Linked DNA regions of Homo sapiens: region 2 is linked to region 1. The links come from fine-mapping of genetic effects on gene expression. A gene starts in region 1. The other region holds a variant in brackets. All regions are shown on one strand. Distances are between the middles of the regions. Region 1 holds the start of INPP5K (inositol polyphosphate-5-phosphatase K). Region 2 holds the start of MYO1C (myosin IC).

Region 1 (15,162 bases):
GGCCAAGGCAGGCAGATCATCTGAGGTCAGGAGTTCAAGATCAGCCTGGCCAAAATGGTGAAACCCCGTCTCCCCTAAAAATACAAAAATTAGCTGGGCGTGATGGTGCATACCTGCAATCCCAGCTACTTGGGAGGCTGAAGCAGGACAATCGCTTGAATCCAGGAGGCAGAGGTTGCAGTAAGCCAACTTTGCGCCACTGCACTCCAGCCTGGGCGACAGAGCAAGACTCCTCACACACACAAAAAAAGATGTTTCGGCCAGGCGCGGTGGCTCACGCCTGTAATCCCAGCACTTTGGGAGGCCGAGGCGGGTGGATCATGAGGTCAGGAGATCGAGACCATCCTGGCTAACAAGGTGAAACCCCGTCTCTACTAAAAATACAAAAAATTAGCCGGGCGCGGTGGCGGGCGCCTGTAGTCCCAGCTACTCGGGAGGCTGAGGCAGGAGAATGGCGTGAACCCGGGAAGCGGAGCTTGCAGTGAGCCGAGATTGCGCCACTGCAGTCCGCAGTCCGGCCTGGGCGGCAGAGCGAGACTCCGTCTCAAAAAAAAAAAGATGTTTCATAAGTATTTGTTGAATGAATAAATGAATGAAACGGGCCAAGTGTGGTGGCTCACACCTATGCTGTAATCCCAGCACTTTGGGAGGTTGAGGCAGAGGATCGTGTGAGGCCAGGAGCCCAAGACCAGCCTGGTCAACATAGGAAGACCCCCCCACACACACCTCTTTACCAAAAAAAAAAAAAAAAAAAAGGTGCTTCAAACACCGTGACACGAGAGAACTAGAAATCATGGATGGTGAGACCAGTGACACAGATCTGGAAATGTATGGCTTCGAGTCCATATGCAGAATTCTTCCGTCCTTCCAGTGTCTTGCTTTTTACACAAAATATGCCCCACCCCACCTATGGGCAGGACTGAGAAGGCAGGAGTTCCATCAGCAGCAGGAGCCTTCCATTTGTCCTGCTTTTTTTGTTCCAGATGAGACAAAAGGACCCAGTGAAAGGAATGACAGCAGATGACTAAAGCCGCCTTTCCCCTCTGCACTGTACGTACCAAATTTCTCACTGTGCGTGTCACAGACGCTAAAATCAGTTTGGGTTTCAAGGCCTCAGCAGCTCACTATGGAGTCAGAAAACCTATTCCTCCTTCCCTCTAGTAATGATGGTTGCCACGCTCGATAGCTCTCCACTTCCACTAGGAGATTATGGCCCTTGGGACATTTCAGGGACATTTTCCAAAGAACCACCCAGATAGAGACAATGGACAGGGAGGGGGTGGTGGATATAGAAGGGGAGTTCATCTGCTGCGAATCACTCCTCCTGTCTGCCAGCTTGATCCATCTCAAGTTGCAGCTGTCATGTTGGGCACTCCCTGGCCTTCCCACGCCAGCGCCAGCTCCCAAAAGCTGCCATTACCTGCCCTTCCCCCTTGGAAAACTTGCTGGCCAGACAGCTTTTGTTAGCACCCACTGTTGTCTGGTGCTTCATTTCCTTCTTTATACCCCCGATCCCATACTAAGCTGCCCTCATCAGAGGTGGCATCTTTCAGATGCTGGGAGGGTGTTTCTGCCCAGGTCACAGGGCCAGATTGGGGGCCCCTTGTTTCATGTTGTCACTTTTCCCCAAGCCCCCTCCTTCCGTTAACTCTCGGTGCTGGTTTCCCAGTGCCCTGTACACCACCCGAGTCATGGGATTCCAGCAGCTCAAAGCAGTCTTAATCACTGAATGAAAAACCTGGCTCTGCTCCCAATTAGCCTCAGAGAGAAAATTATTTTTACAAATAAAAGCTGGCCTCTAACCCTACGGGCAAGGAGGGCCAGGGTCTCACCAGGAGTGACGGCAGGCCCTGCTTACTCTCCCTGCCCCATGTTCCCAAAGCAGCCTCGGGGAGGCTGGAGGGTGGAATGAGGCGGACTGCTGTGATGCCAGCTTCTCAGTCACTGCTCTGGGCCTCAGTGCTCTCCCCCACTCCCTTCCCCACCCACCCACTGGCTTCCCTCCTCCTCTTGAAATTATCCATTCAGGACGATTTACAGTGTTTCTGTTTTCTCCTCTTGCTTCCTTAATACTTTCATTTTTCTTCTAGTTTTGCAAGACAGTGGTCAACAGGAAGACCCAGCAGCTCCACCCTCCCAAGTGACAGGCCATTTTCGGACGCAGCCGTTCTGTGCCCATTCTTCAGGCAACTTTCGATTCCTTACTGTAGCTAATTCTAGATGCCCTTCAGTATTGTGAACAAATAGACCGTCTGGTGTCACAGAGCCCGCGTGTGCAGGAGCCTGCTCCTCCGAGATACGTGGCGTGTAGGTTGCTGTAGTTACAGCGCCTCCGTCTCTCTCCATTGTGTTCCGATCCATTTCTGTGTGTTCCCCCAACCTTTATTTCCAAGTGACATTTTCAGTCTTTCAAATAGCTGCCTTTTGTGATGTGGTGATTTAAATGATTTAAGTTCATTTGTTCTCAACCTTGGGGTAAACTGAGGTATTTTGCTTCCTGGGAAGATCTTCGCAATTTTGAGTGCTCCTGTGGGGAGCGGGGATGAGCTAAAGATACAATGTTTCCCTGCCCCGCACCGCTTCCACAAAATAGCAATGTGGTTTTGCAGCTCTGACTTCTGCTCCCAGTAACCCATCGTTAGGGCACTCTAGCACTATGGAGGTACCCAAGGCTCAGCCAGTCTCTATTTAAGAAAATTTAACAAATACGAGTAACCCTGTCCCAATCACTGAATCTCTAGTTACTACTCTTAGAAACACCTGTGGCTTCTTGGCCCTCCTGTTGCCCGCTCTGAATCTCTCTGCAGTCTACAAAATCGCCCCAGTCAACTCTCCACTTGGAGGGAATTGTCCAGTGTGGCCCCTAGAATTGAGTCACCCCCTAGATACCAACTGTCTGACCCCGAGGAGCTCTGTAAGTCCCTGCTCCTCCTCTTCCCTTTGGGGCTGGTGCTGCCACTCAGCAATAATCCTCTTTTCTCTGTGCTTTCTTAGGTCCCTGTCCTCTGTCTTTGAGGCTGGTTAGGAAGCAAGAGTCCTGATCTTTCATGCTGCACAATATGAGCATGCAAAAAGCTTTTTCCAGCAGAACATGTTCCCTCGTCTCCAGTTGCCGGAAAGGAATTTGGGGATCAAGAACTTAGCTCGTCCTACCCCCATGTTGAGTTCTGCCCTGGAAAACCCAAAGCAAGTAGTGATCATAGTACAGAACCCGACCAAAGTAGGCTGGTGAGGAAGTCCAGGCTCCAGGGGAACAGACGCTGCCCAGTGTTCATAGCTTCCTGCAACTTGACAGAGCCTGAGTTTGCCTCTTAGTGGGAGAATGAGAGAGAGCTGTAGTGTCACCTGACATTCCCCAAACCTTGTGAAGCACGTTGGCCTAAGTGTGCCGTGATCCCAGCCCACACTAGCCTGGGTGCATCTGCTAATGGGAGACCAAATCTTTGTCCGGGAAGCAAGAAGTGGGTGGGAGAATGTATCCTGTTTTTGTCAGTTTGTTTGCCTTACTCATTTCTAAGTGCAATAAGGGAGTGTCTCACAGGATTGCACCTGTGACATCCTGATGGATGCTTCCCTGTGGCCCTCCTGGGGCAAGGGTGGACAGACTCAGACCCCCAGCATGGTTAGCGCTGACCTTCATTGAGGTCCCTTTGGAACCAGATGTCTTGTTACAGACACCTTCCTCTGTGTAAGTCTCCTCACCTTGAGGGGTCTTTAGTAATGCATCTGGGTAGCATCTCAACTGCTGGTAGCATTTATCTGACTTGGAAAGTTGGAGAAGAGGCATTCCTACTGGAGAAAAATGTCAGTGTTTTCCTATAAGCTCTGTGTTAGCTATTCATTATATTTGTGCTTAAAGATGTTCCTTCATTCATCAACTAGGGGAAGTCCAGATGCGGGTTATCTTGAAAGAAACAAACTGACATTCTAGGCAGACAGTTGTCTATGTGGTCTGAGGGTCAGCAGCTGTTAGTCTCCTTCCTTTGGCTCTTGAGACCCACACATATCACTTTAGCCCTAACAAGGGCTCCTCCCACCTCCACCTGTTGCCCCAGTTGAAAAGCATCCATTATGAGCTGAGGTCAGCCTGGATCTGGAATTGCAGCCCACATAAACATAAAGGAGGATGTCCCTGGTCTGTTCCATCCCCACGGATGGTGTTGCTGCTGGGCAACAGTGTTGGCTTCTTTTAAGTACCCCCTTTCCTCCTCACCCACCTCCAAACTGACTAGCACTCAGAGGGACTTATGATAAAGGTTCAGCTCCAGGGGTAGTACCTGAGTGTGTGCCATGCCCCTTCAGACCAGCTGCTTCCATCAGAATTCCAGGGTCACAGCCCCAACAGAAGCAGCAGTGCCTCTGTAGGAGGGGTGCTGGGCTCTGGCCTTCTCATGCAGAGAGGTCCGGGACAGGGTCAGTATCGTGGGCATGTGTATAGCTTCCCAAGTTCTTTTACAGTCCCTGCTGGGACTCCCTGACTTACTTTGGTTGGTTCCTAGTGCTACTTGTTTTACAAACTACACTTTGTAGAATTGATTAGATTACCTTGTTTATTTAATGTGAGTTTGTGCCTTTTTGTCTCAATCTTCCAATACAGGTATATTGAGAAAAAAAGCAGTCTAATAAAATCCTAGACAGAACTTTCTGGAGTCCAGTTTGGTGATGTCCATTTTCCAGCTGTATGTATCCTCAAACTTGCACTGATAACCGCCATTTTACCAGGGCAGGATTAGGAAGAGGTACAAAGGTGTGTCTGAAAATTTTTGCACGTGGATTTCTGCATATAATAGTCCCGTGTCAGTTTACTTATGCAAACATTGCACATCTGAATTGTAATTCGGCCGTTTCCTACTGACAGGATGTCCTTTTGCTTTTGTCTGCCTCCTCTTCACATCTTCCTCTTTATCCACCCTACCAAACAAGCAAAACATTTATTTAAAGTAGTTTTAGGCCGGGCGCGGTGGCTCACACCTGAAATCGCAGCACTCTGGGAGGCCGAGGCGGGTGGATCAGCTGAGGTCAGGAGTTCGAGACCAGCCTGACCAACATGGCGAAACCCCATCTCGGCTAATTATTATTATTATTTTTTTTTTTTGAAACGAAGTCTCGCTCTGTCGCGCAGGCTGGGGTGCAGTGGCGCAATCTCGGCTCACTGCAACCTCCACCTCCCGGGTTCAGGCGATTCTCCTGCCTCAGCCTCCCGAGTAGCTGGGATTAACAGGCGCGCGCTATCAAGCCCAGCTAGCTTTTGTGTTTTTAGCAGAGACGGGGTTTCACCATGTTAAGGCCAGGCTGGTCTTAAACTCCTGACCTCAAGTGAGCCGCCCGCCTCGGCCTCCCAAAGTGCTGGGATTACAGGCATTGAGCCACCGCGCCCCGGCCTACGTTTCATTTATTGACGGCTAATTCTGTAGGAGTCCAGGAATCCCCAAACGTCCCATATGCAATAGGTAATCCAATAAGTTTGGAGTAGAAGCCTGAAAGTGGGCGTGGAGAACGGAGGCGCTCCCGCAGTAGCAGGAATGGGGAGATTACCTGCAGCCGGGGGGCGGGGGAGACCGGATCCCAGGCAGGACAGTGGCTAGGCTGCGTGTCCCCACCCCCGACCCTCGTTTGACCCCTGGGAGCCGGGGCGAAGACAGCACAAGGACGGAGCCCTCGGATCCCTCACGAGTGGGGCAGAGGCTGCGGCGGCGGCGAAGAGACAACTTCCGCCGGAAGACGGCCCCTGGCGCGGGGCACGCTGGGAGCTGCGGACGGCGGGCGCGGGCTGGGCCGGGTCTAGTGGCGGCCGCACACCTCGCGTCGTCTGGGGCAGTGTTGCGCGTGCGCTGATGACAGGCCCGACACGCCCCTCTTACGTCCGCGAACCCGTCTTCGCTCAGCCTCTCGCAGCTTTGCGCTCGTGGGAGAGTCCCGCCTCCTTCTGCGAACCGCACCACCCAGATCCCGGGGTGCGCGGAGGGCGCGTCTCTGACGGAAGCCGGGGCGGACGGTCGGAGTCCGGAAGAAAAACAGTCCGCGACAGCTAGGCGCGTGAGACCGGCCGCCCGCAGGGCTGCTCTGGCCGGGACCCGCTGGCCGGGAGACGCGAACCTGCCGGACCACCGCGCGGGGACGACGGCGGCCATGAGCTCGCGGAAGCTGAGCGGGCCGAAAGGCAGGAGGCTCAGGTGAGGGCACCCTGGCGGCAGAGGCAGGCCTGCTCGGGGGGATCGGCGCCCCTTGGGCTGCGGGCTGGGGGTGGACAAGGCACCAGACCTCCATGACTGCCTTTGGTTCAGAGGCGCTCTCGCCTTCTCCCACGCCTGTGTCAGGTGGGCTGTGTTGGGCCCGAGCCTCGCGCCCCCTCTAAGCCGAGGCCGCCAAGCTCGTTCCCACTGGGGCGCAGCAGGTGTCCCGGTTGCTTTCTGGAGAGGACAGCCGTGTGGGGTTGTTTGAGGTTAAAGACATAACGAGGCCGTCACCCTTCGGCTCTCGGTTAGAAATCTTTTTCCTACTTTTCATCAGCACATACATCAGGAGGTCTGCCTGATCCCATGGTGAACCCCGGGAATCCGAAATCAGATTGAGATAAGATCCTTTAGGGAAGTGACTTAGCCTGGTCTCTTGCCTGCTCTTTCACGGGGAACAACGCTAATCGCCCACTTAGTCTAAGTCACGATGCTTGGATTTGCTGCTAATCGTCGGATTTGAGAGTGGGAACAAGAAATCCGGACTTTTGCTCTCCATCCTCTTAGAGTGAGTCTGGGAAAAGAAGTCTCTGAGTAAAAGGTCTTTGTTCCTTAAGCCTCTGTCGGACAGCAGGGGGAGATCGTAAACAAATGAAGCTCAAAATCTCAGGCCGAGTGCCTGGGAAGGTGGTTTCTGTATAGTGTTGTTTATGCTAACAGGGAGGGACAGGAAGTTGCTTTAAACTGGCCAAGAATTTCTTGAAGTGCTTTTGAGAACGTCGACCTCTAAGGACGGGGTCTGTTGGAGGAGAGATGTTTTGGCATTAACTGCCCTTTTCTCCCATCCCCCTGTACCCTCTGCCATTCCAGATCTCCAGCTGCTGCAGGTACTCCTCATCGTGTGCCTAGGACTCATGCTAGGCTGTTCCTGGTCTCTGCAGGGTCTGTAGCTCCTGCCCGCTCTGTGCTCCGCACAGTCTGAGGCTTCTTGAAGAGCTGCTGTGACTGACTGTTCCACTAAAGACATCTGTAGGTCTCTCTTTCCTGAGCCTCTGACTGGATCCAGTGTCATTGAGGCCCCTTATCTAGTTTTCTTGCTTCCCTAAGACTTGTAAGCTGAGGTGGAAAATATCCAACTGATGACTTTTCCCCAGAGAGTACTCTTTATTTTTCACGGAATACTACGCAGACATAGAGCATAGACTCTTAAGAGAGATGTCGAGAAACCTGTTACTTAAAAACTCCTTGGCCGGGCGCGGTGGCTCAGGCCTGTAATCCCAGCACTTTGGGAGGCTGAGGCGGGCGGATCACCTGAGAGATCAGGAGTTCAGGACCAGCCTGGCCAACATGGTGAAACCCCGTCTCTACTAAAAATACAAAAGTTAGCCAGATGTGGTGGCACACACCTGTAATCCCAGCTACTTGGGAGGTTGAGGCAGGAGAACTGCTGGAACCTGGGAGGCGGAGGCTGCGATGAGCCGAGATCATCCCAGTCCACTCCAGCCTGGGCAACAGAGTGAGACTCAGTCTCAAAAAAAAAAAAAAAAAAAGTCTCGCTGAAGTGCTTGGCAAAATTGGCTTGCTCCAGGGATCTGCTAGGGAGGAGAGAGGAAGGGAATATGGTGGTGTTATCTCTTTTATTTTTTAAATTCCTCTGCCCTTGTAGTGCTGAGGCCTATCACAAGGTGAAATCTGAATCCCTAGGATCTTCCTGGTGGTCTTAGGAACACTTGGGGTGAGAAGTAGGGATCAGAAGTTGCCGACTGAGCCATAGATGATGACAGAGGGGTGTGGGTGGCTGGAGGAGCTGATGGAATTAATACATTCCTGGCAGTTCAGCCCCCTAACCCTTCGCTAGCCTGACCTGAAATTCTTGGGCTCCCTTTGGCGACTCTGCTATATCAGCAGCACCAGTGCTGCCGGGTGTGGGTGGCTGTGAGCCAGCATGGAGGACCCAGTCCGGGGTGGGGATTTCTTGCTTCAGCAGAGAAAGGTGAGGACGGACAGCTGATGGTTCAGTATCCCCATTCCCTCCACCAGCACAGAAACCCACATTTCCCATCATGAGTGTGGCAGATTGCAGTGACATAAGCAGGCCTAGACCCCGTGCACTATCTTTTTTTTTTTTCTTTTGAGACAGAGTCTCACTCTGTCACCCAGGCTGGAGTGCAGTGGCACAATGTCGGCTCACTGCAACCTCTGCCTCGTGGGTTCAAGCAATTCTCCTGCCTCAGCCTCCAGAGTAGCTGGGATTACAGGCGCCTGCCACCATGCTGGGCTAATTTTTGTACTTTTAGTAGAGACGGGGTTTCACCATGTTGGCCAGGCTTGTCTCGAACTCCCGACCTCAGGTGATCCGCCCACCTCGGCCGCCCAAAGTGCTGTGATGACAACGTGTGAGCCTCTGCGCCCAGCCGACCCCGTGCACTATCTTATCCTCCTTCCTCCATGACTTCCCTCTGCATCCCTTCCGCAGCATACACGTCGTGACTTGGAACGTGGCTTCGGCAGCGCCCCCTCTAGATCTCAGTGACCTGCTTCAGCTGAACAACCGGAACCTCAATCTTGACATATATGTTATTGGGTAGGTATCTGCAGGCTCCTTCGCCCATCCCTGACCAGTCCCAGGTTTCCCTGTGGGAAGCACTGTGACCTGCCCTCCTCCGCTCTGGAGTCTGAAGGCTGGGAGCTTTCAGCCTGCTTCAGGGACAGTCCCATGTCTCTGGTCCCGGGTCAGCAACGGCAAAGGGGGCTGGAGATCAGCAGGCAGGGGAGGGAGACCTCATGGCCATCAGAACTCAGGCCTTGAAAGTCCGTGAAGATGGTATCAAATATCTGTGGCAGGGGAAGTAGCCTGGAGGCCAGGGGCCAAGCCTCTGAGCTGGCATGGTCAGTTTGCAGGAATTGAACTCTGGGATCATAAGCCTCCTTTCCGATGCTGCCTTTAATGACTCGTGGAGCAGTTTCCTCATGGATGTGCTTTCCCCTCTGAGCTTCATCAAGGTAACTTGCCAGTTCATTGGCACTTGACAACTGTGTTTTCACATCTCCACTGACCCCTGCTTGTTGGGTCTGATGTGTTCCTCTTACTCCTGCTCAGCCTTTCATGCTGTTTCCCATTTGTTTAAAGGGCTAAACCTCCCTTCCACCTGGACCCCGGGGCCCCTGCCTGCCTTCGCCTTTCTGAGGGAGCTGGAGTCTCCAGGGGTTGGGTTAACACCTGGATATGTTTCAGCTTGGGAAGATTCTGAGGGGAGGTGCAGCAGGGCTTGTCATCACCTCAGTGCTGGCCGCTGCCCCAGCCACCAGTCTCTACTCAAATGCCCATCCTGAAGTCTCTGAGTGTAATCATACGGCTGTCATTTATCAAGTGCTTACTTGTTGTTACACATCATAAGTAGCTCTTTATAGTATATATGTTATTTTAAAATCTTAACAAGTCTGTTGAAATAGAGATATTTTACAGAGAAAACCATGGCTCAGAAGCCACATGCGCTATCTGGGATTTGGATCCAGATCTCTCAAACTTCATAACCCAAGTTCTTAACTACTAATACCTTATTGCTATGCTGGTGAACTCTAAGACTGACAGATCTTAGGCGTGGCTAGCCTGCTGGTGTCATAGGGTATCCTCAGGTCATACGGGACGTGCACTTCAGATTCTGGGGGTCCAGAGGTTAGGAGAGGGGAGTCAGGTGTGGTGGGTACTTTGGGCGGCTTTCTTAGTCTGAGAGACCAGTATACTCTGGGGTGTCTTTAGACAGTAGGAGAGTCCACAGGAAGGCCCTGGGTTGCCAGATCTTCACCTTCACCTTGGTTCTGCCCTGCACACCTGAGGAATGAAACACACTCCCATTCACAGCACCTGGTATACAGCTGCTTAGAAATACCAGAATTCCCTCTTTCCCCTTCCTGGATGACTCTTGTTCTTCAGAATGGATTCTGTCAGCCTAGTTTGCCTGGGGGTACTGAGGCAAGAGCTGTGTGTCCTTTGGAGGGGGAGCAGAATGGGGAGGAAAGAATCTAAGGTTTAGAACTCCTGCTGAGGATAGAAAACACCAGCCCGAGTCCTTGGTTCCCTCCACATCAAACCCAGAGGCCTCCTTCTGTAGATAGGGAGCTAGATCCTTACAGAGGACACAACCACTTCTCTCTCACCCGCCACTCCCTTCCCAAGACTGCAGGCCTCCTTGCTTCTCGGCTGACTGGCAAAGGATTGGTAGGATGGAATTGAGCCAAGGAAATTAGCTCAACTTGTGGCAGAGACACAGCCCTTTCTACCCATGTGGCCTACTGAGATTGGGAGGCCAGACTGAGGGCCTGGCACCCAAAATGAATGCCCTTCTTTCCCCAGCCAAGAATCAGGGTGGATGGGTGAGCTCCGTGCATTTGCCAGCTATAGACTGAGAAGGGCTGACCCCCTTCCACTGCTCCAGGGCCCCCAGCCACCTCCTGCTAGTCCTTTCTTCGCTCCTCCTACTTCATTTCCTCCAACTAGAACTTTCCCTAGAACTCTCCTGCTTTTCCCACAGCCCCACCCTTTCTCCCAGTCTAACTCTGTCCTGCCCCGACCCCACCCTCCCCGCCCCCACTTCCCTGCTGCTCCTTCACAAAGCGAGCCAGTGTCTTTGTGGTGGAACCCAGTGGCCTAAAGCTGCTTTGTGGGTGGGGATTAAGCCTGAAACTTTTCCTGAGTCTTTATCAGTCCCCTTGCTTCAATCCTGACCCTGGGAGTCAGCCCCTCATGGTCCAGCCCGTCCTCCATCCCTGTTGGCACGTGTGCTTGGGTGTAGGAGAGAGAAGACTGGGGAGGAAGTAGGCTTGAGGACACACCTGTAGCAACCTCTGGCCCACCTGAAGTTCTGATGCCTCCCTTACCCAGTGCTGGGTTTGAGGTTCCCCCTGCTTCGACTCCGCTATGCCAGGGCTCGTGGCCTGCAGGATCAAGTTTCATAATTCCTGGAAGGCCCCAGTACACGCTCCCCACCCGGGGATTTCCTCCTTGGCCTCCACACTTCATTCTCCGGAAACGGCTCCTCGGGTGCCGGTGGTAGACAGCCTGAACCTGAGAGGGAGAGCTACTGGCTGCGGCCCATTCCCACCCCACCTTTTGCAGCTGCAGATAGTAGGGATCTTGGCAGTCCTAGCCCTTTGATGTTGTTTTACAATACAGGTAGCCCTACTGGTTCCTTAGCCTCCCTAAATCTTAGTTCCTCAACTACAAAACAGGGACGGTGATTCCTTACAGGCTTGGCAGGAGTAAATGAGAGAGGAGGCACTTGAGCAGATGTTAGCTATTCTCCCTAGCCTGTGCACATGTGTCCTTACCCACTGGCATTCCATGGGCGTTGCCTTCATGGACACCCAGCTGCACGCAGTATATAGTTATGGGGTTTGGGGGGAGCATTTTCTTATTTTTTTTTCACTGAGCTATAATGTACACAGAAAAGCATGCAGAAATTCAGTGTACACTTTGATGGGTTTTTGCATATACCCATGTTACCATCAGCCACATCTAGATAAAGAGCAGGCCGAGTACAGTGGCTCATGCCTGTAATCCCAGCACTTTGGGATTATAGAGGCAGGGAGATTGCTTGAACCCAGGAGTTCAAGACCACCCTGGGCAATATGGCAAGACCCTGTCTCTACAAAACAAACAAAAATAGCCGGGCATGTTGGTGCACACCTGTGGTCCTAGCTACTCAGGAGGCTGAGGTGGGAGGATTGCCTGAGCCCAGGATGTCAAGGCTGCAGCGAGCCGTGATTGCACCACTGCACTCCAGCCTGGTAGACAGAGCGAAATCCTGTCTCTAAGTAAAAAGGGAGGAATGGGGGCAGCTGGTGGATAAAGAACATTTCCAAGGAGAGAGGGAGGAAGGGAAGGGGATAAAGAAGAGCATTTCCCAGTATCCTGGAAACCTCTTATGTTCCTTCCTTTTAAGAATGCTTGGCCGGGCGCGGTGGCTCACGCCTACAATCCCAGCACTTTGAGAGGCCAAGGCAGGCAGATCACCTGAGGTCGAGAGTTCAAGACCAGCCTGGCCAACACGGTGAAACCCCATCTCTACTAAAAATACAAGACCTGGTGGTGGGCGCCTGTAATCCCAGCTACTTGGGAAGCTGAGACAGGAGAATCACCTGAACCCAGGAGGTGGAGGTTGCAGTGAGCCGAGACCACGCCATTGCACTCCAGCCTGGGCGACAGAGCGAGACTCCGTCTCAAAAAAAAAAGAATGCTGAAACCAAAAAATAATAGCTTTCAGATAATCCCCACAGCATCTATGAGATGGATTCCTACTTTATCAATGAGAAAATACACTGAGAAACTGCCTCAATGTCAAATACTAAGAATCAGAGCCAGGGTTTGAACCCAGATCTAACTTCAAAGCCAGTATCCTTAGCTTATCTTCTCTTCCCGCCACCCGCACGCCTAGGCGCAGAATCGAAAACCTCAGCCCCCAGAATGTATCATTTGGCAGCTGAGAAGAAGAATGGAAAGGCTTGAAACTCTGAGATTCAAACTGGGATATCGTAGACCCTGGAGCAGGACACTGCATGTAGCTGAGGGCTCTCTAGAGTCCCTAGCACGGAGCTTGGAAGGGATGCACTTGGCCTGTGTGGTTTAATGAGCGACCTTTGCCCTCTCTCTCCTGCAGGTCTCCCATGTCCGTATGCAGGGGATCCTCTTACTGGTCTTTGCCAAGTATCAGCATTTGCCCTATATCCAGATTCTGTCTACTAAATCCACCCCCACTGGCCTGTTTGGGTACTGGGTAAGGACTGAGCTATTGTCTGAGTCGTGAGCTGGGAAGGGCTGGGAACTGTGGAGCTGGGCAAAAGAAAAAGGAAGTGAAAGGAATCTTGGTCCTCTGTCCAGCCCAATGCATGTTTGTTCTTTTGCCTCAGAGTGGGCTTGCTATCCCTGAGGCCAGGCGAGGCGAGCTGGGCTCTGTGCATGGAGAGATCACCCTGGGAAGCTTAGTTACTGTCCCTAGGAGACCCTGCAGGAAGTGAGACTGTCTGCCCTCAGGTCCAGGATGTGGAAAGAGGGGTGTGTCCAACCCGAGTAGCTTCCCACTCTTCTGTTGACCTGTTCTACCAGGGGAACAAAGGTGGAGTCAACATCTGCCTGAAGCTTTATGGCTACTATGTCAGCATCATCAACTGCCACCTGCCTCCCCACATTTCCAACAATTACCAGCGGCTGGAGCACTTTGACCGGATCCTGGAGATGCAGAATTGTGAGGGGCGAGACATCCCAAACATCCTGGACCACGAGTGAGCCTGGGTCTGGCAGACCGTTCCCCGCCCTCTGCCCCACGCTAACCCCCACTAACCCCCACGAGTGAGCCTGGGTCTGCAGACCGCTCCCCGCCCTCTGCCCCACGCTGACCCCCACGAGTGAGCCTGGGTCTGCAGACTGTTCCCCGCCCTCTGCCCCACGCTGACCGCCACGAGTGAGCCTGGGTCTGCAGACTGTTCCCCGCCCTCTGCCCCACGCTGACCCCCACGAGTGAGCCTGGGTCTGCAGACCGTTCCCCGCCCTCTGCCCCACGCTGACCGCCACGAGTGAGCCTGGGTCTGCAGACCGTTCCCCGCCCTCTGCCCCACGCTGACCCCCACGAGTGAGCCTGGGTCTGCAGACTGTTCCCCGCCCTCTGCCCCAGCTGACCGCCACGAGTGAGCCTGGGTCTGCAGACTGTTCCCCGCCCTCTGCCCCACGCTAACCCAAGCCAGCATCCTCTGCTCCATCACGGATCCCCCAGCCAGTGTCGTCAGTGTTCTGGCTCCCACCCTCTCCCTGACCCTTCCCTGGTGCCCATCTGCTGTCTCCCCTTGCTTTGCCTGCCTGGGGTCCCCTTCCTCCAGCCCGTCTGTCTTGCTTAGAAACCCTGAACACTTGGGAACAGGTCAAGGACCTTGTGGCTCCTGAGGTCACCAGGAGGGCTTCTCAGCCTTTCCTCGTGACCAGTTAAGGAGAGGAAGGAAGGGCCACAGCCTGCTCTGTGTTTGCCAGAGCAGGCTCTTTGGTAGGTCTCTCCGGTTTGAATGGTGGTTTAGGAGCCATGAGAACAGTTCCAGAGGACCCACGCGTGCCCTGGCGTCTCACTTGCCCCTCAGGTTTTCTGTGCCCCAGCAGCCCTTGGGTTGAGCAGGCTGAGCCACCTGGTGATCTCCCTTCCCCGACTTCATCACAAATCCTCAGGCTGCCCTCCTTTTTTTCTGAAGCCTCATTATCTGGTTTGGAGACATGAACTTTCGGATCGAGGACTTTGGGTTGCACTTTGTTCGGGAATCCATTAAAAATCGGTGCTACGGTGGCCTGTGGGAGAAGGACCAGGTATCCAGTGAGGGGAGGGTCCCAGGGGGTGATCTGAGCCCACGGTGGGGGCCATGTGAGCTGTGCAGAGTGTTGCTAGATGCCCTCGCTGCTGTTTTCTTTTGCCCAGGTCTGGTGGGGGAGGCTGTCTAGCAGGGCTTCGCATCCAGGGGTGAGGCAGCCACGCCTGATCTTCACATGGAAAAGCCAGGGTAACAGACCCTGGATGTGCTTTAGAATAGAGAGTCAGATACAAAGCATGAAATGAATTATTTAAAAAAGAAGAATAGGGGCCGGGCACGGTGGCTTATGCCTGTAATTCCAGCACTCTGGGAGGCCGAGGTGGGTGGATCACCTGAGGTCGGGGGTTTGAGACCAGCCTGACCAACTTGGAGAAACCTCATCTCTACTAAAAATACAAAAAAAAATTCGCCGGGCGTGGTGGCACGTGCCTGTAATCCCAGCTACTCGGGAGGCTGAGGTAGGGGAATCGCTTGAACCCGGGAGGCAGAGGTTGCAGTGAGCAGAGATAGCGCCATTGCACTCCAGCCTGGGCAACAAAAGCAAAACTCCATCTCAAAAAAAAAAAAAGAAGAAGAATAGGGAACCAGAAGGGCTTTGCACCAGGTACCATCATGCGTCAGCCCATCGTGTCCCTGTCGTCTTTCC
Region 2 (15,162 bases), 20 kb after region 1:
CAGCATATATGGGCTCCAAACCATCACAGGGAAGTTAGGGAGGGAGAATGCTTTGAAAGAGAGAACGTGCATTTGTGTGGTTCATTACCAAGTTTGTTTGTTTGTTTGTTTGAGACGGAGTCTCGCTCTGTCGCCCAGGCTGGAGTGCAGTGGCGCGATCTCCACTCACTACAAGCTCTGTCTCCCGGGTTCACGCCATTCTCTTGCCTCAGCCTCCTGAGTAGCTGGGACTACAGGCGCCCGTCACCACGCCTGGCTAATTTTTTGTATTTTTAGTAGAGACGGGGTTTCACCATGTTAGCCAGGATGGTCTCCATGTCCTGACCTCATGATCTGCCCGCCTTGGCCTCCCAAAGTGCTGGGATTACAGGCGTGAGCCACCGTGCCTGGCCCTATGTTTGTTTGTTTTTTTCTTTTTTTTTTTTGAGATGGAGTCTTGCTCTGTTGCCCAGGCTGGAATGCAACAATGCAATCTTGGCTCACTGAAACCTCCGCTTCCCAGGTTCAAGCGATTCTCCTGCCTCAGCCTCCTGAGTAGCTGGGGTTACAGGCACATGCCACCACGCCTGGCAAATTTGTGTGTGTGTGTGTGTGTGTGTGTTTTTAGTAGAGACGGGGTTTCACCATGTTGGCCAGGCTGGTCTTGAACTCCTGACCTTGTGATCCGCCCGCCTCAGCCTCCCACAGTGCTGGGATTACAGGCGTGAGCCACCGTGCCCAGCCCCATTACCAAGTTGTAAGCATTGCTAGGCACCTGCTGTCCAAGGCAGATTCAGGGACGCAGTGTCTGTGGTCTCTGGGATGGGAATACCACATTCCAGTGCCCTCTGAACACTCCTTAGAAGAGTGAAAGATTGGAAATGACCCAAGGAGCCAACAGGCAGACCAGGGTTAGTCAAAGTTACCGCTTCGTGACCACCCCCTTGACGCCCTTTAATTTCATTACTGCTCTTTGAAGTAAGTACTGTTATCACCCCGTCTTAACAGCTGAAGAAACTGAGGCTTAGAGAAATGAAGTCACTTGCCCAGGGGCATACAGCTCTCAATTAACAGGACGGACCCTTCCCCCAACTGGTCTCTGATTCAAAAGTCTGAGCTCACCACTGTAACGCCATTCTCCTCAGTTGCTAGAATACTTACTCTTTTACTGTTGAAGGGACACCAGTACATTGGGAACATTTATTTAAAATAGCAGTTGAATAGGCCAGGCACGGTGGCTCACGCCTATAATCCCAGCACTTTGGGAGGCCGAGGCGGGCGGATCACAAGGTCAGGAGTTCAAGACCAGCCTGGCCAGCATGGTGAAACCCAGTCTCTACTAAAAATACAAAAATTAGCTGGGCATGGTGGCTCAACGCCTATAATCCCAGCTACTTGGGAGGCTGAGGCAGGAGAATCGCTTGAACCCGGGAGGCAGAGGTTGCAGTGAGCTGAGATTGCGCCACTGCACTCCAGCCTGGGCGATAGCGAGACTCCGTCTTAAAAAAAAAAAAAAAAAAAAGCAGTTGAATAAAGAAGGAGACAAAAATAGTGTTTCCAACTGCGAGTATATGGAGCTGTAAACATTAAGATTAGACGGACATTTTTGAGGGACGAGCTTCAGCTTGGGTTTTTAGTAAGTGTACCTGGTTATTGAGTACCTGTGTGCCAGGATCTGTGCTAATGCTGAGGATACACAGGACACTCCAACAGCTAAGTCCTTGCCTTCAGGGCTTACACCTAAGTGACATGCTGAGTGGGAAACAGAAAATTGCAATGTAGTGTAATCGTATAATACTGGTATAAAATGTTTCAGTGGCCGGGCGCGGTGGCTCACGCCTGTAATCCAGCACTTTGGGAGGCCAAGGCGAGCAGATCACGAGGTCAGGAGATCAAGACCATCCTGGCTAATGCGGTGAAACCCCGTCTCTACTAAAAATACAAAAAAGTTAGCCAGGCATGGTGGCAGGCGCCTGTAATCCCAGCTATTCTGGAGGCTGAGGCAGGAGAATTGCATGAACCTGGGAGGCGGAGCTTGCAGTGAGCCGAGATTGCGCCAGTGCACTCCAGCCTGGGCAACAGAGCGAGACTCCGTCTCAAAAAAAAAAAAAAACTTTGGAAGCAAAAAGCTAATGTCTGGGATGGTTTCGGCAAAGGCCTCTCCCTGGTGAAGAAAGGTGTTCCAGGCAGCAAATACTGCAAAAGCAAAGGTCCAGAGGCTTGAGAGAGTCACCAAGGTGGAGTGGGTCTGGGGAAGTGGTGTGAGATGAAGGATGGGGTGGTCAGACTCCTGAGCCCCTTGAAAGCCCTACTTGGGGACTTTAACTTTATTCTGGAGGCAGTGAAGATGCCTTAAAGGTTCTAAAATAGCCGGGTGCCCTGGCACATGCCTGTGGTCCCAGCTGGTCAGGAGGCGGAGGTGGGGGGTTGCTTGAAGCCCAGGCATTTGAAGCTGCAGTGAGTTAGGATTGTGCCACCGCACTCAGCCTGGGCAACACAGCAAGACCCTGTCGATGGATTGATCAATCAATAGGTAGGTAGATAGGATTCAACACAGTGAGACCTGTCGATCGATCAATAGATGAGATAGAGTGTGTGAGACCCTGTCTATAGATTGATTGATTGATTGATCCAATTAGGCTTTATTACTCTGGGTTGATTCAAGAAAGGAGATTGTCCATGAAGGGGGTGGAACCCAGAAACCGCAGCTGTCCTGCTCCCCCGCCACACACACACCCCACCTCCAGGAGTCAGAGCTGCTGGTCTCCAGGAGGGCAGGGCCTCAAGGACAAGGTGGCCTTAGAAACTGCCACAGTAGTTGCTTCGGAAGGCTGGGTTATGGGTCAGAGACTCGTCTTTGGTCAACTTCAGTTACCTAGAGGAGGAATGCATTTTGTCTCCGGAGCGTATTACCTTTTCCAAACCCCTCAGGGAAACTGGCAAGTGAAGAACAGGTGGGAGGTCTCTCAGTCGACTCCTTTTTTTTTGGAGATAGAGTCTTGCTCTGTCGCCCAGGCTAGAGTGCCGTGGTATGATCTCAGCTCACTGCAACCTCCGCCTGCCAGCTTCAAGCAATTATCTTGCCTCAGCCTCCCGAGTAGCTGGGATTACAGGCACCTGCCACCATGCCTGGCTAATGTTTGTACTTTTAGTAGAGAGTCAGGATGGTCTCGATCTCCTGACCTCATGATCCACCCACCCTGGCCTCCCAAAGTGCTTGGATTACAGGCGTGAGCACCGCGCGCGGCCTCTCAGTCGACTCTTGAGAGGAAATCATAAAGGCCAGTGTGCATGGCGAGCTCGTTTTGCACCAAGCACTGTGCTAAACATTTTATGTACTTTATCTCATTGACTCATCCTAGCAACCCTTCATGGTAACTACTGTTATTCCCTCCACTGGCAGGCGAGGAAGTTGAGGCCTGAGAGAGGTTAGTTTAGTTTGGTGGTTAAGAGCACATGCTCTGTGGTCATGCTGGCTGGCCCTGAATCCTGGCTCCACCACTTAGTACCTTGTGACTTTGGGAAAGGTGCTTCCCCTCTAAGCTAAGTCTCAGTTTCTCCACCTGTAAAGAGAGCATGATACACCCAGGCACAGTGGTCCATGCCTTCTAATCCCAACACTTTGGGAAGCTGAGATGGGAAGATCCTTTGAGGCCAGCAGTTCAAAACTAGGCTGGGAAACATACTGTCTTTACAAAAAAATGTTTAAAAATTAGCCAGGCATAGTGCCACGCACTTACCGTCCCAGCCACTCAGGAGGCTGAGGTGGGATCGCCTGAGCCCAGTAGTTTGAGGCTACAGTAAGCTGTGATGTCACCACTGCACTCCAGCCTGCATGACAGAGCAAGACCCTGTCTCTTTAAAAAAATAAAATTAAATTTAAAAAAAGGTGTGGTAACAGTACTGATCACAGGCATCCTCTGGTAAGCATTTCCTAAATGCTTCCCTTCCCTTTCCTGAGGCATACTTCTAGTATGCAGGGCAGCCAAATACAAGCTCAGGTGTGTCCAGCCTCAGAATCTCAAACCTCAGCTGCTTTGATCCACTGCTGCTTTTGCTCAAGAAAGAAGCAAAGCTTTGAAATGGAATGTTTCTGAGTCACAATTTGATCCATAAAAACATGAGCTAGACATACAGAGGGTCCTGGCTAAGTCTGACAAGTGCTGGCATACTTTGGATTCTGTTAGGCACCTTCCTGCCTGCTGCCTTGCTCCCTCCGGCTCTGGCCCCGGGGGTCTGTGGCTGCCAGTAGTTGCTGGAGTTAGGGGCTCCAGCAAGCTCATGTGGGCTCATTTCTGCTCTTAGCCAACCCTTTCTTCTTTCCCCATTCTTCCTCTTTATGCCCCCTGCCCCTGCAGTGAGAAAAAACGCAAGCCTGCATGGACCGATCGCATCCTGTGGAGGCTGAAGCGGCAGCCCTGTGCTGGCCCCGACACTCCCATACCGCCGGCGTCACACTTCTCCTTGTCTCTGAGGGGCTACAGCAGCCACATGACGTACGGCATCAGCGACCACAAGCCTGTCTCCGGCACGTTCGACTTGGAGGTGAACTTCTGGGCTGCCTGATACTTGCCAGAGGAATAGCTATGCTGGCCACATCCCCAAGCCCTCCATCCCTGGATTCGAATGTCAGCCAGTCCCCCAGGGGAGACCTGTGGAGGCCATGATTGCCTTTCCTGCCAGGTCGGATATCCCAGCTCCTCTTAGGAGCCGTTGATGGCTCTGTCTGTCAAAACCGTGTTCAAACCCTTTGTGAAAAGGTTTCCATTTCCTTTGGGTATTCTCCCTTGGGGCTAATGAGTTCCATTAGGCTTATTACCCAATGTGAGAAGTAGGACTTCTTTTATTTGTCCTAAATCTATCTGGATCAAGTTGCAACGGGCGCTCCCTCCATCCCTGCGTCCTTGTATCTTGCTATCTGAATGACCAAGGTGGTGTTGGCCTCCTTCAGGCTGCTGCCCCTCAGCCTTCACGTTTTCATACAGGTTTACTGGCGTGTGTGTGTGTGTGTTAGGGTCTCGTTCTGCCGCCCAGGCTGGAGTGCAGTGGCGGTATCATAGCTCACTGAAGCCTCCACCTCCTGGGCTCAAGTGATTGATCCTTCCACCTCAGCCTCCCTAGTAGCGGGACTACAGGTGCACGCCACCACGCCTGGCTGTTATGTATTTTTTGTAGACACAGGGTTTCACTATGTTGCCCAGGCTAGTCTCGAACTCCTGGGCTCAAGTGATCCTCCCAAACTGTTGGGATTATGGGTGTGAGCCACCGTGCCTGGCCCCCGCTGGTATCTGCGTTGTGTTCTTGCACGTTCACAGCTGTTCTCACCAGAGCATCCCCCCATGTGGGGCTTTGGGTCAGATAAGGCGGGAGGCCTGAGAGCAGCTGCCTGGCCGCCTCCTTAAGCCTCTCAGCCGTGCCTCTGCTCTCCGCCATTCCTACCCCCCAGCGCTGGGCCCCATGGGATTCCGACAGGGCCAGCCACCCGCCGACTGGTGTTCGGCCCTCTTTCCTGATGGCCAGCCAAGGTCCGTTGGAGCAGCCCAGTGGAGTTCCATGCCCACCCCCTCTGGGTGCCCCACCTTCCCCACTATGTTGGAAGGGCACAGTGAGGAACACTTGGCCTCAGAGGAGGGAATGATGCTGCGAGATTCAGCCCCCTTCCCACCCCCGTGTCTAGCTGAAGCCATTGGTGTCTGCTCCGCTGATCGTCCTGATGCCCGAGGACCTGTGGACCGTGGAAAATGACATGATGGTCAGCTACTCTTCAACCTCGGACTTCCCCAGCAGCCCGTGGGACTGGATTGGACTGTACAAGGTGATGTGGTGGCAAGGCAGGAAGTCCATCAGCGACAGCCCCTGGTTCATCCTTCCCGAGGGCTCCTGGGAGCTGGGCAGATGCTGACGAACTCACCCTCATCCACCCCAGCGGTTCTTCTGTAGCTAAAGGCTGGCAGTGAAGGGCGGCGGGGAGGCACACAGTACGGTAGCCAGGCCCAGCAGGGAGACCATCTCTTCCTTAGGACTTGCCTTAGGTCCCATGTCCTCCCTGACCACTGATGGCCTGACTCCCCCTCACAGGTGGGGCTGCGGGACGTTAATGACTACGTGTCCTATGCCTGGGTCGGGGACAGCAAGGTCTCCTGCAGCGACAACCTGAACCAGGTACGTCACCAGCACCAGGTACATCACCAGCAGGCAGGCCTGCCTCAGCACTCCTGTCTTGTGGAAGGAACAGAGTGCTGAATAACTTGTCACTCAGAGCTGGGTGGAGCCCAGAGCCCTGGAGCTGACCCCAGTCCTGTCCATCCCCCTCCAGGTTTACATCGACATCAGCAATATCCCTACCACTGAAGATGAGTTTCTCCTCTGTTACTACAGCAACAGTCTGCGTTCTGTGGTGGGGATAAGCAGACCCTTCCAGGTAAGCAGTGCTGGTGAGGGAAGGGGAAGGGTGAGGGCTTGAGCTCATCACTGGCTCCCTGAGGCCCAGGCCTGGGAGCCAGCCGGTACATGAGGGGCCGCTGCAGTGCAGGAACGGGGGTGATGGAAAGCACGGAGGAAGACCCGCTCTCCATTTCCACCACCTGCTTTATCCCTGCAGATCCCGCCTGGCTCCTTGAGGGAGGACCCACTGGGTGAAGCACAGCCACAGATCTGAGCCAGGATGGGAGTGAATCCCAGGCGGAGGCCAGAGCTGGCAGCCAGCTCTGCCTTTCCACTGCCGGGAGTGCTGGGGGCCCAGCCTGGCCCCCTGAAGAGACAGCCAAGTGTCGTCCACATACTCCTCCCAGAGTGAGCTCTAACCAGGCTCATTTGCTCTCTCCACTACTCATCTCTGGAATTAGCCGCTTAAATACAGGTTTTTGTTGCTGAGATGTGAGTGAAACCAGCTAGTGTGTCAACAGTGAAGACCTGGGGACAGTTCTGCGTCTCATTTCTGGATTCCTACCCCCTCTTCTAGTCTTGCCCAAGTAGTCCTGCCAGGCACATGCCCCATTTGGCACAGGCCTGCATTCTTGTCGTGCCGTCCTGGGCCTCAGGCTGTCTGGGAGGGGAGATGCTCACATTTGTACAGGCTACATAGACTGGTGCAAGCAGTGCTGGATTCCAGGAGTCTTGGCATCTCATAGCTTGTCCCCGTGAGGAGTGAGCAGAGGGTCTGGGATTTCTGCTTTCAGCAAAAGCAGTCTGACTCAGTGGGCAGAATGGAGGGGCCCCTCTAGCCAGGCTCTTACGCCATGGTTATGAGCAGGTTGATGAGGGTCCTTCGGCCAGCACAACCTTCCTCCCTACTCACGGCATGGAGTCTGACTGCATGGAAGTTCCAGATCCTGACAGAGAGAACTGGGAAGGATCCAGGTTCGCTTCCGTTGGTAGCTTGAGTCCCATGCCTCCACCCTGCCATCTGAGGAAGGGGTGACAAGTGGTCAAGGAGCTGTGGCCACAGACTTTTCCAGGGTGGTCCTTGGCAGGTGAGGTGCGTCTGTGCCACCCTTGTCAGGAGCCATTGACGACGGGCCCCCCCTGGACCCCCCGGGACCTCAGAGTGGGGGCAGGCAGAAGGGAGAACCAGCTCAAGACATTTTGGAGGATCTGGCCCTGGGGTTCTTCAGAGAACACCCTCTAGGGGCTTTGGGGACATGGCCTGTCCCCACATCCAGCACTTGCCTCCGCCATGGTCACTCGGCAGCCCTTTTCCCAGGAGAAGACACCTCTGGGAGCCTGCTCAGTGCTTGTCCTGCCATCCTGTGTCCTGGGACTGAGGGTTACTCCAGTTGCTCTGTGTTGCATACTCTCCCCCGCAAGCCTGTGTATGAAGAATTGTCCCCTGGCTTCCAGCAGGCCATGGCTGGCTGTTTTGTGACTGTTACATTGTGCAGGGGTAATTATTAGCGTGGCTTTTACACTTGCGTGTGACTGATGATTGGGGGGTGGGGGTACGGTGATGGGCCTGGGACTAGCTGTAGATTCCAGGAACAGGGACCCTGTAGATCCCAACTAGACTTCTGTGTCTGAGA[T/C]TTGCAGAAGTGGCCAGGACTGGGGCTAGGATGAGGTTCTAGAATGGTGAGCCTCTGGGGCCCTAACCAGGTGGAGCATGCCATCTATGCCGGTGGCCGCTTAATGTACTCTGTTAAGTCAAATGAGCTCTTGTTCATCCCTCCTGACCCGCTGCTCTGCATACCCTGGTGTTGAGCCTTCTGCCTGCGTTAACCAGTCCAGAATGCCACCATCTTCTCTTTCTGCCCCACTTCTCCTCAGCCCCTTCTTGCTGAGTTTTCCCCCATGGTAACCTATCCCTGCCCCCAACACATATACCTAGGGACCTCCAAAGCCCTCACTTGCCCACCTGTTCCTTCTCACATGCACAGCCATCACGAGGGTTACTGCATGGCACCCTTCATTGGGCAGATGGGAAAGCCAAGGCTCAGAGAAGTGGTACAGTCTCTTCAAAGTTCCAGGCACCTGTGGTTTCCCACAGGACCAGAAACAGGAATGGGGTCTGAACCCACCCGCAGAGCGGTCTCAGTAGTCTGTAAAATACAGATGATGTCCCTATTCTCAAGATTACTGTGGGAGAACAATTGCAGAAAGTGTATCGCACTAGACCCGCCTCCCCGTTCTGATTAATGCGGCCCCGGGGCTTGACCCCAGGGGTCCCCCCACATGCTCACCTCCCCCGTGGTGAACTGAGGTCGCCACACACCCAGCCTCCTGTGTGGGAGGGGTGAGCCCAGCAGTGATTGAGAGGCGGAAAGGGGAATGGGGGGTGCTCTCCGTCCTCTGGGCCCCAGTCAGGATATGGCCGTTCTGGGTCCACCCCGACCCACTGGGTGGAAACAGGAAATAAGTGAGACCTGGTGTGCACTGGGTCTACGCCTGGCTCCACGGCTGATAAGGGCCATTGTGTGGCCGCCGGGGATGAGCCTGCTCTGGATAGATGTGCTTCCCGGAGGAAGGAAGGAAGGCTTGCTAGCTTTTCCGGGGCGGGGGAAGCTGTGGGGAGAGAGAAGGGTGCCGGGGGGAAGGCCCCTGCCTATGGGGCTGTCGGTGCCAGCACACACCCACGGGACTCAGCCCTTCCTATGCCAGCCTCTCCCTCTGGAAAGGTCTGTTTCCCCTATCCACTTCCCTGTTCTTACTTCCTATAAGGAATGGCTGGAGACTGGAGGGCTCAGTCTCAGGCCAGGAAAGTGTCAGCTGTGATTTAGCAACAATAAAAATAGAAAAGCAGGAACATCAGGGGTGGGGGTCACCTGGGGGTACTGTTGAAACGCAAGGGATGAACAGGGCTAGAGGTTGCCCACACCCAGGGAACCCAGGAACTAACCTCACAAGCTCTGAGGCTCAGAGGAGGGTAAGCCAAGAGCTTCCTCACAGCGGGACAGCCCCCTGTCCGGGCCCTGCATGACCAGGCCCCAGCAGCCCTGGTCTCTCAAACTCATGGTGGGGGCTCACCTGCTGTGGGGGGCAGCCCCGTTGAGGGGATGTGCAGGAAAGCCAGTGCCTACTAACGGGTCCTCTTGGCCTAGGGGAGGGCATGCCGTCTGGTTTGGGGAGTGGGCCCCGTGCTCTCTAGGTGGTACCAGAGAGTGGGCAGGAGGAGGGGCCCAGCCATAGAGCTGCCGTGGGGATGGGGGGAAGGGGAAAGGCGTCCTAGCCTTTGACCTGGAGCCCAGGGTCCCCCATGGGTGGCTGCATCGGCTCCTCTGGTTACCTGGGACAACAGGCATTTCCTCCATCCCCAGCCCCTCCTCTTCCTGCTCCAACCATCCGGGCCAAGAGGCCTCCCAGTCAGACCTGGACGGCTCCAGCCGTGTCCTGAGGAGCTGGACCAGCCACATCCCCTGGGGCTGCAGTTGAAGCAGAACCAAGTGGCCATCCCGGCGTTAGACCGTAGGTTCCTGGTCCCGGAGTGGTCGGAGCCCGCCAGTGGGCAGGCAGCTCTTGCTCACAGGCCGCGGTGCCCAGGCCGCTGGCTCTCCGCAGGGCGGAATGGCGCTGCAAGTGGAGCTGGTACCCACCGGGGAGATCATCCGCGTGGTTCATCCCCACAGGCCCTGCAAGCTTGTAAGCTGGGATGCTCTGGGCTGGGAGGAGGGTGGGAGCGTCTCCCCAAGGCCGGGCAGCCCCTCTCAGGCGAGCCCTCGGGCAAGAGCTGAGCAGCGGGGAGGGGTTCCGATCCTTGGCGGGGCCAGAACAGACTGAACAAGACGGGGTGAGTGGAAGAGTAAGGATGCAAGGGCCACTAGCAGCAGGATTTTTGGAAGTGGAGGTCTGGGCTTGACTCTTCCCCGGCTTCCCGAACCTCAGTGGGCAGAACCGTGAATACTGGGCACAAAAGGCAAGTGCCGGCTGCTGTGAGGTCGAAGGACCAGGGCATGGAAGCTCCAGGCTCAGTCAACGCCCCGCTCCTCTCCAGTCCGCAGGGCTGGGACCGCCCAAGACTCAGAACAGAAGGACGGTGTGGGAGGTGGGTGAAGGGTCACGGGTGGGTAGAAACGGGGGAGCGCGGCCCTGGCCCGGCCCGCAGGAAGGGGCTGGAGATGCAAAGGGCCCGGAGGAGGGAGAAAGTCGGGCGCCCCCACGCCCCCAGCAGCGCGGCGGGGAGCCGGGTCTTCGGCCGGAGGGGCGCGCGCGTGTTCGCTGTGGCCCCGGGAACGGGCCGAGGCGGGGGCCGCACGCACCGAGGCTTCGCGGACGCGGCCGGGGCTGAGGCGGGGCGGGGCGGGGCCGGAGGGTGCGCGGCCCTGCCCGGGATGACGACAGGCTGCGGCCCGGCCCCCGGCGGGCCCTGGGCGGGGAGAGTGCGCCCGGGCCGCGGATCCCCAAGCCCGCCACGCCGCCCAGCCCGGCCCCGCCCGCGCCGGAAGAGCCACGCCGGTGGGTACTCGGGGCGCGGGGACGGCGGCCGCGGGGGGCGGGTGTGGGGAGCGGGCGGCCGGGCCGGGAGCCGCCGTGCACGAGGCAGGGGTCACGGCCGGGGATCGCTGGGGCCGAAGAACGGCCGCGTGGACCCGTGCGGGGGGGGGGGGTCCCACGACCCGGAGGCGCCGGCGCAGCCTGGTGGAGACTTAGATTTACCTGCGGGGAGCGGGAGGCGGGGAAGAGCGGCCTGGGCTGCAGGACCCAGGACCCTGCGCGCCCTTCGGGCCCCGCCCGCAGCCCTGCTCCGCCTCTGGGTTCCGGAGAAGCCGCCTAAACCCGCCCCTTCCCGTTCTCCGCCCCTGGGGCCCAGCGCGCCCCGAGTGTGACGGGCGGGGGGCTCCGGGGTGGCCGGAGAAGGAGGATGGCCACGCGGCCCTCAGTCCTCACGCTCCGGCCTCCCGCGCACACGCCTGGCTCTGAGATTCATTCATTCATCCAGGGGTCCGGGAAGGGGTGACTGAGCCCCACCGTGTGCCTCGCTGCGTGTAGGGAGTGGGAGCCGTCTCCTGGGAGGGACTGACAAGGAAACAGCTGATTCCTGCGGGGTGCGATAAGGAGGCGCTGCGTGTTTGGGAGAATCAGGAAGGGGTTCTGGAGGAGGTGACACCTGAGCCGAGTCTCAGTGAGGTGGGCAGGGAGAGTGCCCCGGGCTGGGGAAGCCGCAGGTGCAGGCACTGAAGCTTGGACTGGCTGGCGACGGTGCGAAGGCCCCCTCCTGGGGGGAGGGGTGGGGGGAGAGGGGACTGGAGCGGGCCATCTGGCACATCGGAATGCAGGAGCAGTGGGGTAAACTGGGGACAGCAGGGGGGTCTCGGGAGTTCATAGGCAGGGTCCTGGTAAGCAGCAGTGAGTGTGAATCATGGGCCTGGCATATGGAGGGTGTCCTAAACCTTCACTCTATGAACATGAGGTGTTGATTTGATTTGTGTTGCCCCAGAGGAAATGGATTGGTAGGAGGAAGGCAAGGAGGCCAGTTAGGCTGCTGTCTTGGCCCAGGTAAGGAGCAGTGATGGAGGTGAGGTTTTTGTTTGTTTTTGTTGTTGTTTTGTTTTGTTTTGAGATGGAGTCTCGCTCTGTTGCCCAGGATGGAATGCAGTGGTGCGACCTCTGCTCACTGCAACCTCCACCTGCCGGGTTCAAGCTATTCTCCTGCCTCAGCCTCCTGAGTAGCTGGGATTACAGGTGTGTGCCACCGCGCCCAGCTAATTTTTTTTTTTTTTTAGTAGAGACGGGGTTTCACCGTGTTAGCCAGGATGGTCTCAATCTCCTGACCTTGTGATCCACCTGCCTAGGCCTACCAAAGTGCTGGGATTACAGGCCTGAGCCACCGCGCCCGGCCTGGAGGTGAGGTTTTAGCAGGTCGTGACTACTTGGTGTGAGGAGTGGAGGCAGGAGAGCAGGCCTGTTAATGCCAGGCTGTGATGACCAGCTCAAACAGTGCCACCCTTCTCTCTACAAGGACATTAAACAGGGAGTACAGGTTAGGGGTCAAAGGCCCTCTTTTTTTTTTTTTTTTTTTGAGACAGTGTCTCTGTCACTCAGTCTGGAGTGCAGTGGCATGATCTCAGCTCTCTGCAACCTCTTCCTCCAGGATTCAAGCAGTTCTCCTGTCTCAGCCTCCCAAGTAGCTGGGATTACAAGCGTGTGCCACCACACCCTGCTAATTTTTTGTATTTTTAGTTGAAACAGGGTTTCACCATGTGGGCCAGGCTGGTCTGGAACTCCTGACCTCAAGTGATCTTGCCTGCCTTGGCCTCCCAAAGTGCTGGGATTACAGGCATGAGCCACCGCTCCTGGGCCGTTTACTTTTTTTTTTCCCCCATACAAATTTATGTTAACATGTTATGGGTTTATTGCTTTGTTTCTTTGTTTGTTTGACACTGGGTCTTCTGGGGTACCCAGGCTGGAGTGCAGTAGCACCATCACAGCTCACTGCAGCCTCAACCTCTTGGGCTCAAGCAATCCTCCCACCTTAGCCTTCCAAGTAGCTGGGACCACAGGCACACACCATGCCTGGCTAACTTTTTAAAAAAATTTTAGTGGAGGCAGGGGTCTCACCACTATGTGGCCCAGGCTGGTCTTGAACTCCTGGCCTCAAGCGATCCTCCCACCTCGGCCTCTCAAAGTTCTGGGGTTACAGGTGTGAGCCACTCACTGCACCTTGCCTCTGTTCACGTTTGCTGGACCCCCCAGGCAGAGGTGTCTGGCAGCCAAAGATCCATGGTTGTGTAGCTAGAATGGACAGTCCTTGACCAAGGCCCTGTGAGCAATCAGGGTAGAGACCCTAAGTCGCCACTATCTCCTCCCCATTTCCCTTCACAACAATTCCCTGAGGTCTGGAACGGTCCTTGGTGGGCAGCCAGGCCCAGATCTAAGATTTGTTTAATAAACAGAAGTTGAAGCCCTGCTCTGTGCCACCCGTGAGACAAGCTGTGGCTGCCTTTCTGCTGCCTTGGGCTCAGTGGACATCGGTTTATAGCAGCAGTCCCGGGTGCCTCAGATGACACCTCCTCCCAGCCCCCAACACCCCTACCCCATGGCAAGATCTGTGTGCCCTTAGGCTGGGGGAACATTTGAGCTTTCCGCTGTCCGCAGAAGTCAGGCTTGTAGGCACCTGGCCTATAGGAGCTGAAGGGCACTAGATAGCCCAGGTCTGCTGGGCCACCCCATCCCCTGTGGTTCCAGTAAATGCCTCCCCAGGTGGGAGAAGACCCAGAGGCAGCCTTGGGGAAGAAGTCTCCTATGTCACTCAGGGGCCATGGCCTGCAGGGAACCTCTAGGCCCAGAGCCAAAGGCCCTGGCCCACTCCTAAAGCCCACATGTGACATAATAGAATCACACGACACCGACAGGGGCCTGAACGGTGTCACTGAAGGTCACAGCCCTGGTAGCCCTGATAACCGCACAAAGAGGCTCAGGGCAGCCCTGCAGTAAGGTGTTCCAGTGCCCGGGTTCCAGTCCCACTCCTCCTGAGACCTTGCACAAGTCACCTGCCCAGCCTCAAGTTCTTCTGCATTGGAGTGATGATACGGACCTCACGGCTTGGCTGGCGTCACTGAAAGGAGTAACCCAAGAAAGCGCGGAGAACGCAGGAGGCGCCTGGCGCTGCAGCCTCAGCCGCGGCGTCTTTCCCACCCAGGTTCCCCGCTTCCCTCCCCGCCCGGGGCTCGCGCTTCCGTCCAGTGAGGAGGGGCAGGCCGGGGGTTGCCAGTGCTGGAGCCGCCCTGGGGCCCGCGAGCGGCGGAGACGCCCCCTCCTTCCGCCGCCGGGCGGTGGCTGCGGGGGCGCCAGCGGGCATCCCGGGAATGCGGCGGCGCGGCCCGGGAACTGGAAGAAGCGGGCCCGACCCCTCCGCGCGCGGATTCCCCTCATTCCAACCGCGTGACGTGGAGGGGCGGGGCGGACACTGCGGCCGCGAAGCTCCGCCCCGTCCTCTGGCCGCGCCCCCGCTGGCTCCTGCCACGCCCCCGGCCCGAGTCCCCCACGCCTCGCGGGGCAGGGAGAGAGCTGAGCTTCCGGGAGGGGCTCTCTTGACCCTCTACCCCGTCTTCTAGGACGTTCCCCACCCCTGGGCGGGCTGGAGGCTGGGTCGCCTCCTTGCTCCCTCTAGATTTTCCTTGTTCTGTTTTGTTTGGAGACGGAGCTTCGCTCTGTCGCCCAGGCTGGAGTGCAGTGGCACAATCTCGGCTCACTGCAACCTCCGTCTCCCGGGTTCAAGCGATTCTCGTGCCTCAGCCTCCCGAGCAGCTGGGATTACACAGGCGCCCACCACCACGCTCAGCTAATTTTTGTATTTTCTAGCAGAGAGGGGGTTTCGCCATGCTGGTCAGGCTGGTCTCGAACTCCTGAACTCTGATGATCCGCCCGCCTCGGCCTCCGAAAGCGCTGGGATTACAGGCGTGAGCCACCGCGCCCGGCCCTCCCTCTAGATTTTAAACCTGGGGGCACCGCAGCGGGCGTCTCCTCCCGCCCTCCCCCGCCTCTGTCCGAGACGCCGCCATTCCCCCTCCCCCGCTCCCACTCCCCCACCAGCTGGTGCCCCCGCTCGGGGGTCCCCAGGGCCGCCGCTCCGGCCGGGTTGTTGCAGTGACGAGCCTTCCCCGCAAGGATCCGGCCCGCACCTGCCGCAGCCTCGCCCTCTCCCCAGGGAGCGGGGTCCGCGAGCTGGGGGTGGGGCGCTGGGGCTTTGGGTTCCCGCTCTGCCTAACCCCACCAGGGCGAGTCTGTGTACGCCGTTGTGTTGGTGGAGGAGGCAGG

The links. PIP is the estimated chance that this variant, and not a neighbour inherited with it, causes the effect.
Region 2: its variant is fine-mapped to the expression of INPP5K in whole blood (INTERVAL, PIP above 0.99).

What each region holds. Positions count from the first base shown.
Region 1 is chr17:1,507,467-1,522,628 of GRCh38, reverse strand. It overlaps INPP5K (inositol polyphosphate-5-phosphatase K), which reads left to right and starts at 6,017. Exons shown (of 12, transcript NM_016532.4): 1 at 6,017-6,173; 2 at 8,650-8,757; 3 at 9,068-9,176; 4 at 12,830-12,946; 5 at 13,276-13,451; 6 at 14,403-14,514. The coding sequence starts at 6,130. It overlaps PITPNA (phosphatidylinositol transfer protein alpha), which reads left to right. Exons shown (of 12, transcript NM_006224.4): 11 at 984-1,050; 12 at 2,091-4,911. The coding sequence ends at 1,028. PITPNA-AS1 (PITPNA antisense RNA 1) reads right to left here and starts at 5,710. Exons shown (of 2, transcript NR_028514.1): 1 at 5,536-5,710; 2 at 4,533-4,911. RefSeq lists a silencer at 5,632-5,931.
Region 2 is chr17:1,487,298-1,502,459 of GRCh38, reverse strand. It overlaps MYO1C (myosin IC), which reads left to right and starts at 9,774. Exons shown (of 32, transcript NM_001080779.2): 1 at 9,774-10,047. The coding sequence starts at 9,973. It overlaps INPP5K (inositol polyphosphate-5-phosphatase K), which reads left to right. Exons shown (of 12, transcript NM_016532.4): 8 at 4,338-4,524; 9 at 5,657-5,794; 10 at 6,058-6,141; 11 at 6,296-6,400; 12 at 6,581-7,883. The coding sequence ends at 6,637. LOC105371483 (a long non-coding RNA gene) reads right to left here and starts at 9,673. Exons shown (of 2, transcript XR_934145.4): 1 at 8,835-9,673; 2 at 7,766-8,510. RefSeq lists silencers at 10,519-10,918, 10,999-11,438, 13,985-14,454, 14,885-15,044 and an enhancer at 10,723-11,442. The variant T/C (reference allele first, on the strand shown) is at 7,998.